Regions from separate parts of the Homo sapiens genome. Here region 2 is linked to region 1. The links come from fine-mapping of genetic effects on gene expression. A gene starts in region 1. The other region holds a variant in brackets. All regions are shown on one strand. Distances are between the middles of the regions.

Region 1 (5,522 bases):
CAAGACGAGCCTTGCCAACATGGTGAAACCCCTCTCTACTAAAAATACAAAAATTAACCAGGCATGGTGGTGCATGCCTGTAATCCCGGGTGCTCGGGAAGCTGAGGCAAGAGAATCTCAAACCCAGGAGGCAGAGGTTGCAGTGAGCCGAGATCACGCCACTGCCTCCAGCGTGGGCAACAGAGTGAGACTCCATCTCAAAAAAACAAAACAAAACAAAACAAAACACATTTACTGAATACTCAGTGCCAACCACTGAGAACATGATAAGGAAAAACAGACATGCTGTGGAAGGTGGGTGAGCAGGAGAGGGGCAGAGACTCAACACATCCCTTAAATAGATGTATAAACGCATGTATAAATCAGCCCTTTTGGATATCACGAGAGCCACAGGTAGAGAACCTAAGTATAGCCAGGCACAGTGGCTCACGCCTGTAATCAGCACCTTTGGGAGGCTGAGGTGGGCAGATCACGAGGTCAGGAGATCGAGACCATCTTGGCTACGGTGAAACCTCATCTCTACTAAAAATACAAAAAATTAGCCAGGCGTGGTAGTGGGCACTTGTAGACCCAGCTACTTGGGAGGCTGAGGCAGGAGAATGGCATGAACCCAGGAGGCGGAACTTGCAGTGAGCCAAGATCACGCCACTGCACTCCAGCCTCAGCGACAGAGCGAGACTCTTGTCTCAATTAAAAAAAAAAAAAAAGAACCTAAGTATAAAAGAATGAAGACTTGTGGCTCACGCCTATAATCCCAGCACTTTGGGAGGCCGAGGCGGGTGGACTGTGAGGTCATGAGTTCGAGACCAGCCTGGCCAACATGGTGAAACCCCGTCTCTATTAAAAATACAAAAATTAGCTGGGCGTGGTGGCGGGCGCCTGTAGTCCCAGCTACTCGGGAGGCTGAGGCAAGAGAATCACTTGAAACCGGAAGGTGGAGGTTGCAGTGAGCTGAGATTGCACCACTGTACTCCAGCCTGGGTGGAAGAGTGAAACTCCGTCTCAAAAAAAAAAAAAAAAAAAAAGGAATGGACTTTTTTGGCCAGTGCAGTGACTCATACCTGTAATCCCAGCACTTTGGGAGGCGAAGATGGGCGGATCACTTGAGGCCAGGGGTTCGAGACCAGCCTGGTCAACATGGTGAAACCCTGTCTCTACTAAAAATGCAAAAACTAGCTGAGTGTGGTGGCGGGTGCCTGTAATCCCAGCTACTCCGGAGGCTGAGGCACAAAAATCACTTGAACCTGGAGGGTGGAGGTTGCAGTGAGCCAAGATCATGCCACTGCACTCCAGCCTGGGTGATGGGGCAGGACTCCACCTCAAAAAAAAAAAAAAACTTTCTTGAGGAAGTGGGAGGCTGAGGCAGGAGGATTGCTTGAGACCAGGAGTTTGAGACCATATGGGGCAACATGGCAAGACCCCGTTTCTACAAAAATTTTAAGTATTAGCCAGGTGTGGTGGTGCACACCTATAGTCCCAGCTATTTGGGAGGCTGAGGCAGGAGGATCTCTTGAGTCTAGAAGTTTGCGACCAGCCTGGGCAACATAGTGAGACCCCGTCCCAAAGGAAAAAGAAAATTGCAAAGTAGAGAAGACATTTGAAAGAATCAAACACGGCCAGGTGCTGTGGCTCATGCCTGTAATCCCAGTACTTTAGGAGGCTGAGATGGGTGGATCACCTTTGCTCAGGAGTCCAGACAAGCCTGGGGAACATGGCAAAATCCCGTCTCTATCAAAAATACAAAAAATTAGCCAGGCCAAGTGGCACGCGCCTGTGGTCCTGTACTTGGGAGGCTGAGATGGGAGGCTCTCTTGAGTCTGGGAGGTGGACATTACAATGAGCTGAGATCATGCCACTGCACTCTAACCTGGGTGATAGAGTGAGACTCCATCTCAAAAACAAATAAAATAAAAATTCAAGGCAGGAATAAAACAGTAACTACATAATGAGCTCACATTTTAATAAAAGAGATATAACAAATGAACAAAAGTCCATTAAAATGTTAGGGAAAAAACCCAATAGGATGAGTTACTAACTAGAAGGGGAGAAGGGATTTGGAGTGGTTAGGAGAGCCCTTTCTGAGAAGATAAGCTGAGACCTGTGCCAAGAGGGAGGCAGCCATGCAAATACTGAGAGGAAGGAAAAAAACGAAGGGCCAGTGCAGAGATCTAGAGAGGAAAAGAACTTGTCTTGCTGGAGAAGCAGTCAAGGTAGCCAAGGAGAGTACTGAGAAGAGTACGTTGGAGTGAGTAGGTAGGGACTCTATGGAGTAGGGCCTTAAAGGCGATGATTAGGCCAGGCGCGGTGGCTCACACCTGTAATCCCAGCACTTTGGGAGGCCGAGGCGGGTGGATCACGGTCAGGAGTTCAAGACCAACCTGGCCAAGATGGTGAAACCACGTCTCTACTAAAAATACAAAAAAAATAAGCCGGGCCTGGTGGCAGTCGCCTGTAATCCCAGCTACTCGGGAGGCTGAGGCAGAGAATTGCTTGAACACGGGAGGCGGAGGTTGCAGTGAGCCGAGATCGAGCCACTGCACTCCAGCCTAGGCAACACAGCGAGACTCCGTCTCAAAAAAAAAAAAACAAAACAAACAAACAAAAAAAAAAACAAAGGCAGTGATTAGCAGTTCGGGTTTTGTTTCCACTTACACTAGCGAGAGCATCAGTAATGAACAAGGGGAAGAGTGAAGCCACTGACTCGCGAGGTGACTGTGGGCAAGTTCCTGAATCTTGCTAACACTCTTTAACCCCCTGGAAAACTGTTCGCTAATCGTCACATTAAACGGCTGCGAACGGGCCACGGTCAAGGCTTCGGGGCTGCAGCCGCGAGTTTACCTGTCCTCCAGGACCGATTCCATGGGCTCCACCCCGTCTGTGTCCACGGCGCGTAGCCGGTCGGCGAAGGCGATAGCTTTCTCCAGTCGCGCCACTGCCTCGCGGCTGCCGAAGTCCACAAGCGCTAGACGCTCCAGGTGCTCGATCACCGCAGCCGTGATCCGGCCACTGCCCTGGAGGAGGGATGAGGCGGGGAGTGTGGGTCACCGGCGCTCCGAAGTGCCTCCCGGCTTGCTCCGCCACCCGCCTAGATGGCCCTGGCCTTTACCTGAGGATCCGCCTTGGAGGTGAAGCCCTGGCGCCCGCCCAGAGGGGCCCGAAGGCCCAGCCACACCAACCGCGACCACATTTCTTCCTTCCTTGGCCCCCGCAGTGCGCCCGCGCGTAACGCCGAGCGACGCGCCTGAGAGTGATGACATCAGAGTGCGCCGTCGTCGCCGCCGCCACCACTGTCGCCATGAACAGTGTGGGGGAGGCATGCACGGACATGAAGCGCGAGTACGACCAGTGCTTCAATCGCTGGTTCGCCGAGAAATTTCTCAAGGGGGACAGCTCCGGGGACCCGTGCACCGACCTCTTCAAGCGCTACCAGCAGTGTGTTCAGGTGAGCCCTCCCGCCTCTGTTCCCAGGCCCTGCATTCTCGGCGCTGTGTCCCACCACACTCATCGTATTTTACGGGGATTGGGACTGGACTGGAAGGGTGGAGAAAAGTCGCAGTGAGGCCAGTGGCAGGAGCTCGCTCCCCTACCATCACCACCGAGGCCACTTGGGTGTCTCTCCGAATGACAAATATTGGGGCAGTGCTTTTCAAGAAGCACAGTCACATCCTTTGGTTCATTTGGTGTTCACCCTAAACTCGCAAGGTGGGCATAGTTACTCATATTTTATACATAAAAAACTAACACCCAGAAATAGGAAGTGATTAATCCGAGTTCACTAGCATCAGGTTTCCTTGGTTCTTTCGCAGGTGGTGCACTTTTCCACTATTACTGCTGGGGTCTGGGCGGGATTATACTTCAGAATTCAGACTGGAGGGTCACATTTTTTTGTTGTTATAAACCCTTCGTTAGCCTGTTTCTCTCTCTTGACCAGTCCCCGCAACTGCAGCCAGGAAATGTTTATTCTGGCCCAATGGATGTGGAACTGCTTTGAATTGTTAAGAACAGCACCGGGCAAAGCACTTCCAATAAGTTAACCCAACACATCCTCACAGCAATTCCCCGAGGTAGTTGCTGTCTTCATCCCATTTACAGTTAGTCACATAGCCAGTAAGTCCTGGAACCCAGATTTGAACCTAAGTCTTTCACTAACACAAAGTGATGATTATTTTTCAAATTTCACTTAATTTTAACGGTTCCCTCACAACTCCTTTTCCAGTCTCCCTCAGGTCTTACACTTGATTTATTCATTATGGTACTTCTGGTTTTTATTTATTTTTGAGGCAGAGTCTCACTCTGTCTCCCAGCCTGGAGTGCAATGGCACAATCTCAGCTCACTGCAACCTCCGCCTCCCAGGTTCAAGCTATTCTCATGCCTCAGCCACCCGAGTAGCTGGGCTTACAGGCATGCGCCACCATGCCCAGCTAATTTTTGTATTTTTAGTATAAACAGGGTCTCGCCATGTTGGCCAGGTTGGTCTCTAACTTCTGGCCTCAAGTGATCCACCTGCCTTGGTCTCCCAAAATGCTGCGATTATAGGCGTGAGCCACCACACCTGACCGGTACTTGTTTTTTAAAAAGTATGTGGTTTGAATCATGGTTATAAGTCTTTATAATCAGCTTGATTTTACTTTTGTACTGTCATATTTTATTTACAAAGCTTGCAACTTAAGCTTCATGTAGGTCTTTATAATGTGTTTTCTCCTCCTACCAGAAAGCAATAAAGGAGAAAGAGATTCCTATTGAAGGACTGGAGTTCATGGGCCATGGCAAAGAAAAGCCTGAAAATTCTTCTTGACCTTGACAGTCACCTTGAAGGATTTCGCAAGTCCAGAAATTGAGGACTCTGGATTTTTGTCAACTAACTCTGTGAACATAGCCATCAGATTTGATGAGGAACTTAGGAGAGAGGAGTTTTATTTCCTCCTTCGATGTTTTCCTCTCAGTTGTAAAAGATGAACTCTTTGAGATGATTTCTCACCTGCTGTGGTATCTTGCAGGAACTGTGTGCTAAAATTGAACAATTTTTTTGAGATTATGGTTGCAATACTTGGCGTGGAATCAGCTTTACATAAATATACCTTGTATGCAAACGATGATAAACTAGTCAGGATGAGCAGAGCTGCCTGACCTCTTGATTTCTGCTGCAAAAGACATATACACTGTACTGGGGTCACTATTTATGAAAGCAATTGGTTAGGACCTCTTTTTTTCCTCTCAGGGAACTAATGCTCTGAAAAGGGATCTGGGCACAACAGTTTCAGTGAGTGCTTTTGAGCACACTTTTATTTTTATATAGTAACTAATGGTTAAGATTGATGGTGGCCTGGATTAGCAAAGAGGAAGACAGCTTTTAACACAGTTCCCTGCCTTCACAAGAGGTGTCAGATTAAGATGTGAAAGCTGCAAGAATGTTGCAGTGAACACCATTTCAGAGCTCTCAGTGTGCAGTTCAGGAATTAAGATACTTGGAATAGCTGTGGAGGAAGAACCTAAATTGCAAAGATCTGCTATTGCCAGCTCT
Region 2 (5,000 bases), 70 kb before region 1:
ACATTTTCAATTCTATGTCGCCTAAAGAAAAACTTCCACAAAGATTTAGTCACATATACGCTCATTGCATCACATTTAATAGTAATTAAAAATTGGAAATAACCTATTTCTTCCCAATAAGGACATGGCTTTAAATTAAGGCATATCCAGTCTATGAAATATTGTTTATCTATTTAAAACAATAAGGAAAACTTACAAGTAATGATGGAAAGGTTGCAAGGACATATTAAGTGGGAAGAATAAGAAAACACGTGGTATAACAATGTATACAATATCCCTGTTTATGTTTTTAAATGTTGTTATATGCATACCTATAAATATATTGAAATATCGTGCTCACTTCAGTAGCGCATATACTAAATTTGGAATGATACAGAGAAGATGCACAAAATAATTAATATATTGAAATATATGGCCGAGCACGTTGGCTCACGCCTGTAATCCCAGCATTTGGGAGGCTGAGGCGTGTGGATCACGAGGTCAGGAGTCTGAGACCAGCCTGACCAATGTGGTGAAACCCTGTCTCTACTAAAAATACAAAAATTAGCTGGGCGTGGTAGCACACGCCTGTAATCCCAGCTACTCAGGAGGCTGAGGCAGGAGAATTGCTTTAACCTGGGAAGCGGAGGTTGCAGTGAGCTGAGATCGTGCTACTGCACTCTAGCCTGGGAATAGAGCGAGCCTCCGTCTCAGGGAAAAAAAAAAAAAGATATAAAATAAAAAATGACTGGAGAATGACTGGAGAATACCTAATTGGTTGGACATATGGGAGAAACAAGGATATATTTCTTGGAAATAGTGTAGGAAAAACAAAGACAAGGAAACAGCTTTTTTTTTTTTTTTTTTTTGGAAACGGTCTTGCACTTTCGCCAGGCTGGAGTGTAGTGGCGTCATCTCGGCTTACTGCAACCTCCACCCCCCAGGCCTCAAGTAATCTTCCCATCTCAGCCTCCCAAATAGCTAGGAATACAGGCATGTGCCCCACACCTGGCTAATTTTTGTAATTTTTTTCGTAGAGACTGAGTTTCACCATGTTACCCAGGCTGGTCTCAAACCTCTGGGCTCAAGCAATCTGCCTACCTCAGCCTCCTGAAGCCTGAAGTGCTGGGATCACAGGCGTGAGCCACCGAGCCCAGCCGGAAACAGCATTATAAGAAAGGAAATATAGGGCCAGGCGCAATGGCTCATGCCTGTAATCCCAGCACTTTGGGAGGCCGAGGCGAGTGGATCACCTGAGGTCAAGAGTTCGAGACCAGCCTGACCAACATGATGAAACCCTATCTCTACTAAAAATACAAAATTAGCCAGGTTTGGTGGCACATGCCTGTGATCCCAGCCACTTGGGAGGCTGAGGCAGGAGAATCACTTGAACCTGGGAGGCAGAGGTTGCAGTGAGCTCAGATCGCGCCATTGCACTCCAGCCTGGGCAACAAGAGCAGAAACTCCATCTCAAAAAAAAAGAAAGAAAGAAAAGGAAATATAGAAAAGAGAGGAAAAAAGAAAGGAAATAGGATTCTACAAAGCACTGGATTTGTCCTGAACAATATTTACCAGGTCACAGTATTATAAACACTTGATTTGGTTTTTTTTTTTGAGATGTAGTCTTGCTCTGTCGCCCAGGCTGGAGTGCAGTGGCGCGATCTTGGCTCACTGCAAGCTCTGCCTCCTGGGTTCATGCCATTCTCCTGCCTCAGCCTCCTGAGTAGCTGGGACTACAGGCACCCACCACCACGCCTGGCTAATTTTTTTTTTTTTTTTGTATTTTTTTAGTAGAGACGGGGTTTCATCATGTTAGCCAAGATGGTCTCGATCTCCTGACCTCGTGATCCAACCGCCTCGGCCTCCCGAAGTGCTGGGATTACAGGCATGAGCCACCGCGCCCGGCCTCAGTTTTTATTTTATTTATTTATTTATTTATTTTTGAGACGGAGTTTCGCTTTTGTCACTCAGGCTGGAGTGCAATGGCGCTATCTCGGCCCACTGCAACATCTGTTTCCCAGGTTTAAGCTATTCTCCTGCCGCAGGCTCCCAAGTAGCTGGGATAACAGGCGCCTGCCACCACACCTGGCTAATTTTTGTATTTTTAAAAATGTAGAGACGGGGTTTCACCATGTTGGCCAGGCTGGTCTCAGACTCCTGACCTCAGGTGATCCCCCAGTCTCAGCCTCCCAAAGTGCTGAGATTGCAGGCATGAGCCCAGCCCAATTTCTTTAATTAAAAAAAAAAGTTAGTGTTGAAATGAGTAGAAACTTCCACGTTCACACACTCAGCTATGATTGTGCCTCTGCACTCCAGCTAGGGTGATGGAGTGAGTCCCTGTCTCTAACAAAAAGAAGAAAGGACTTGGCTTTCAGCCACACTGCATCCAGTTAGCTAACACAGGTACTCCTGTGCCTCTGTTACCCCTTTGGGTTTTAGGAAATGCTGTTTCTTCCTTTTTTATTTTTGTTTTAGTCTGCATCTTTCCTCATGTTGGCTTCCCACAGGTGACATTGCATTCCGGTTCCTTAATTATGTTCAGTCCCAGCATCAGAGAAAACAGAAGAGGCAGTTAAGGGCCCAACAAAATTTATCCTGGGAAGAAATT[G/A]CCAAAGAGTACCAGAATGAAGAAGATTCCTTGGGCGGGTCTCGTGTCGTGGTGTGTGACATCAACAAGGAGATGCTAAAGGTTGGAAAGCAGAAAGCCTTGGCTCAAGGATACAGAGCTGGTGAGTCCTGCAGAAGGCAGACACAGGGGAAGTATTTGTATCTTTATAGAATAAGGTGGAATATGTAAAATATTGAAATGCTTTATCTTTTGGCTTTCAGAAACTTATAGATGGGCAGGTTGAAGATGATTTGCATGGCTGAATCTAGTTTGTGTGCTGTTATATGCATTATGTATGCATAGCAGCCCATTGAGTGAGCTTACCCAGCCCTATGTGACTGGGATCACTAGATCCCAAGTAAGTCAAGAATCTTACCCAAGTCACACAACTTCTCAGTGGCAGATCCCAAATTGGAGTTGAATCTTCAGATCTCAGCTCTGAGACCCTGAGACAGAAGTTTTGCTGTCATTTCCCAGCAGCTTCAGGGTGACTTCGGTGTATCATTCCCATTCTTGAACCATTCCATTCTCCTGTCCATACTAGGATAGTTTGATTGCTGTGCAACTGGACCTCTCATCTCCTGTAAAGAAAGAACTTCTGGCTGAGCCCATGGCTCACACCTATAATCTCAGAACTTTGGGAGGCCACAATAGGAGGATTACTTGAGCCCAAGAGTTCCAGGCTGCAGTGAGCTATGATTGCACCTCTGCACTCCAGCCTGAGTGACAGAGTGAGACCCTGTCTCTAAAGAAACTTAAACAATAAAAAAAGAAATAACTTGCCCTTCAGCCACAAGGAGTGCAGTTAGCTAGCAGCCTCCACCTATTAGCACATCAGCCTCTGCCTCAGTTTCCAAGGGAGGCCAGGCTCTTTTGTGGCAGCTCGTAGCCAATGGCTGAACACTGTGGGACTACTAGGGCCTGGATATTTTCCAAGCAAGACTCTTTAACAGCCAGCCTTTGTTCTGGAGGTCCCTATTGGGTAGGCTGAGCCTTTGTCAGATCTGCATTAAGGTCTAAAGGCTTTTCTTGCTCAGTCTTTCTTCCTCTCCCTTTGTCTACTCTGTGTTTCCCCTGCCACACACACAAAAAATTATTATACTCCTTGGTCCATCTCAGCATGTTTCTCAGAGGACCCATCTGATACACTCAAAGAAACACTCGTGAACAGTACTCCTCACACTTCCCCACTGTGGTAAATACGAACAGCAGATAGGCAGATGACTGCATGCCTATCTCTGTGAGATTACTGCAAGCTCAAAATGGATGATTTGTGTGCTAGCTTAAAAATGTAAATTGTGGCAGCGAGGTGGCTCATGCCTGTAATCCCAGCACTTTGGAACGCTGAGGGTGAAGGATCGCTTGAAGCCAGGAGTTCAAGACCAGCCTAGGCAACATAGTGAGACTCTGTCTCTACAAAAAATTTAAGTTAGCCAAGTGTGGTGGTACACACCTGTAGTAACAGCTACTTGGGAGGCTGAAGCAGGAGGATCACTTGAATCCAGGAGGTCGAGACTGCAGTGAGCCATGATCATGCCACTGCACTCCAGCCTGGGCAACAGAGTAAGACCCTGTCTCAAAAAAAAAGCAAATTTGGCCAGGCGTGGTGGCTCACGCCTGTAATCTCAGCACTTTGGGAGGCCGAGGGGGGGTGGATCCCCTGAGGTCTGGAGTTCGAGACCAGCCTGACCAATATGGAGAAACCCTGTCTCTACTAAAAATACAAAATTAGCTGGGTGTGGTGACACATGCCTGTAATCCCAGCTATTTGAAGGCTGAGGCAGGAGAATTGCTTGAACCTGGAAGGTGGAGGTTGTGGTGAACCAAGATGGTGCCATTGCACTCCAGCCTAGGCAACAAGAGAGAAACTCCGTCCTGGCAACTGCACCCTGTTGGCCCAGTTTTTGTTGTTGTTGTTGTTGTTGTTGTTGTTGTTGTTGTTTCTGAGACAGAGTCTTGCCCTGTTGCCCAGGATGGAGTACAGTGGAGCGATCTCGGGTCACTACAACCTCTGCCTCCCGGGTTCAAGCAATTCTTGTGCCTCAGCCTCCCGAGTAGCTGGGATTACAGCTGCGCAGCACCATACCCGGCTAATTTTTTTGTATTTTTAGTAGAGACGGGGTTTCACTATGTTGGCCAGGCTGGTCTCGAACTCCTGGTCTCATGTGATCTGTCCACCCATTCCTCCCAAAGTGTTGGGATTATAGGTGTGAGCCACTGCGCCCAGCCCAGCTTTTCAGAGCCGCTATTCTGCCCTCTTCCATGCTGGCCAGGGACCACAGATGGCCACTGTGAGGGGCAGTGGTATATAACAAAGAACGTCCCTCAGGTCAACATCAGCATTTCTCTCCTTCTCCTCCCCCACCATGAGTGTCTATGGTTATTTTAGCTCAAATCTTCCTCCTCTTCCTCC

The links. PIP is the estimated chance that this variant, and not a neighbour inherited with it, causes the effect.
Region 2: its variant is fine-mapped to the expression of GATC in whole blood (INTERVAL, PIP 0.99).

The regions. Positions count from the first base shown.
Region 1 is chr12:120,444,146-120,449,667 of GRCh38, reverse strand. GATC (glutamyl-tRNA amidotransferase subunit C) reads right to left here and starts at 3,224. Exons shown (of 4, transcript NM_176818.3): 1 at 3,107-3,224; 2 at 2,839-3,011. The coding sequence starts at 3,187. It overlaps TRIAP1 (TP53 regulated inhibitor of apoptosis 1), which reads left to right and starts at 3,284. Exons shown (of 2, transcript NM_016399.3): 1 at 3,284-3,442; 2 at 4,713-5,522. The coding sequence starts at 3,296. The coding sequence ends at 4,796. RefSeq lists enhancers at 2,409-3,254, 3,088-3,382, 2,980-3,529, 2,744-3,943, 3,255-4,102.
Region 2 is chr12:120,514,275-120,519,274 of GRCh38, reverse strand. It overlaps COQ5 (coenzyme Q5, methyltransferase), which reads left to right. Exons shown (of 7, transcript NM_032314.4): 3 at 2,487-2,708. Among named protein-coding and RNA genes, the nearest start is that of COQ5, 12 kb to the left of the region's middle. The variant G/A (reference allele first, on the strand shown) is at 2,588.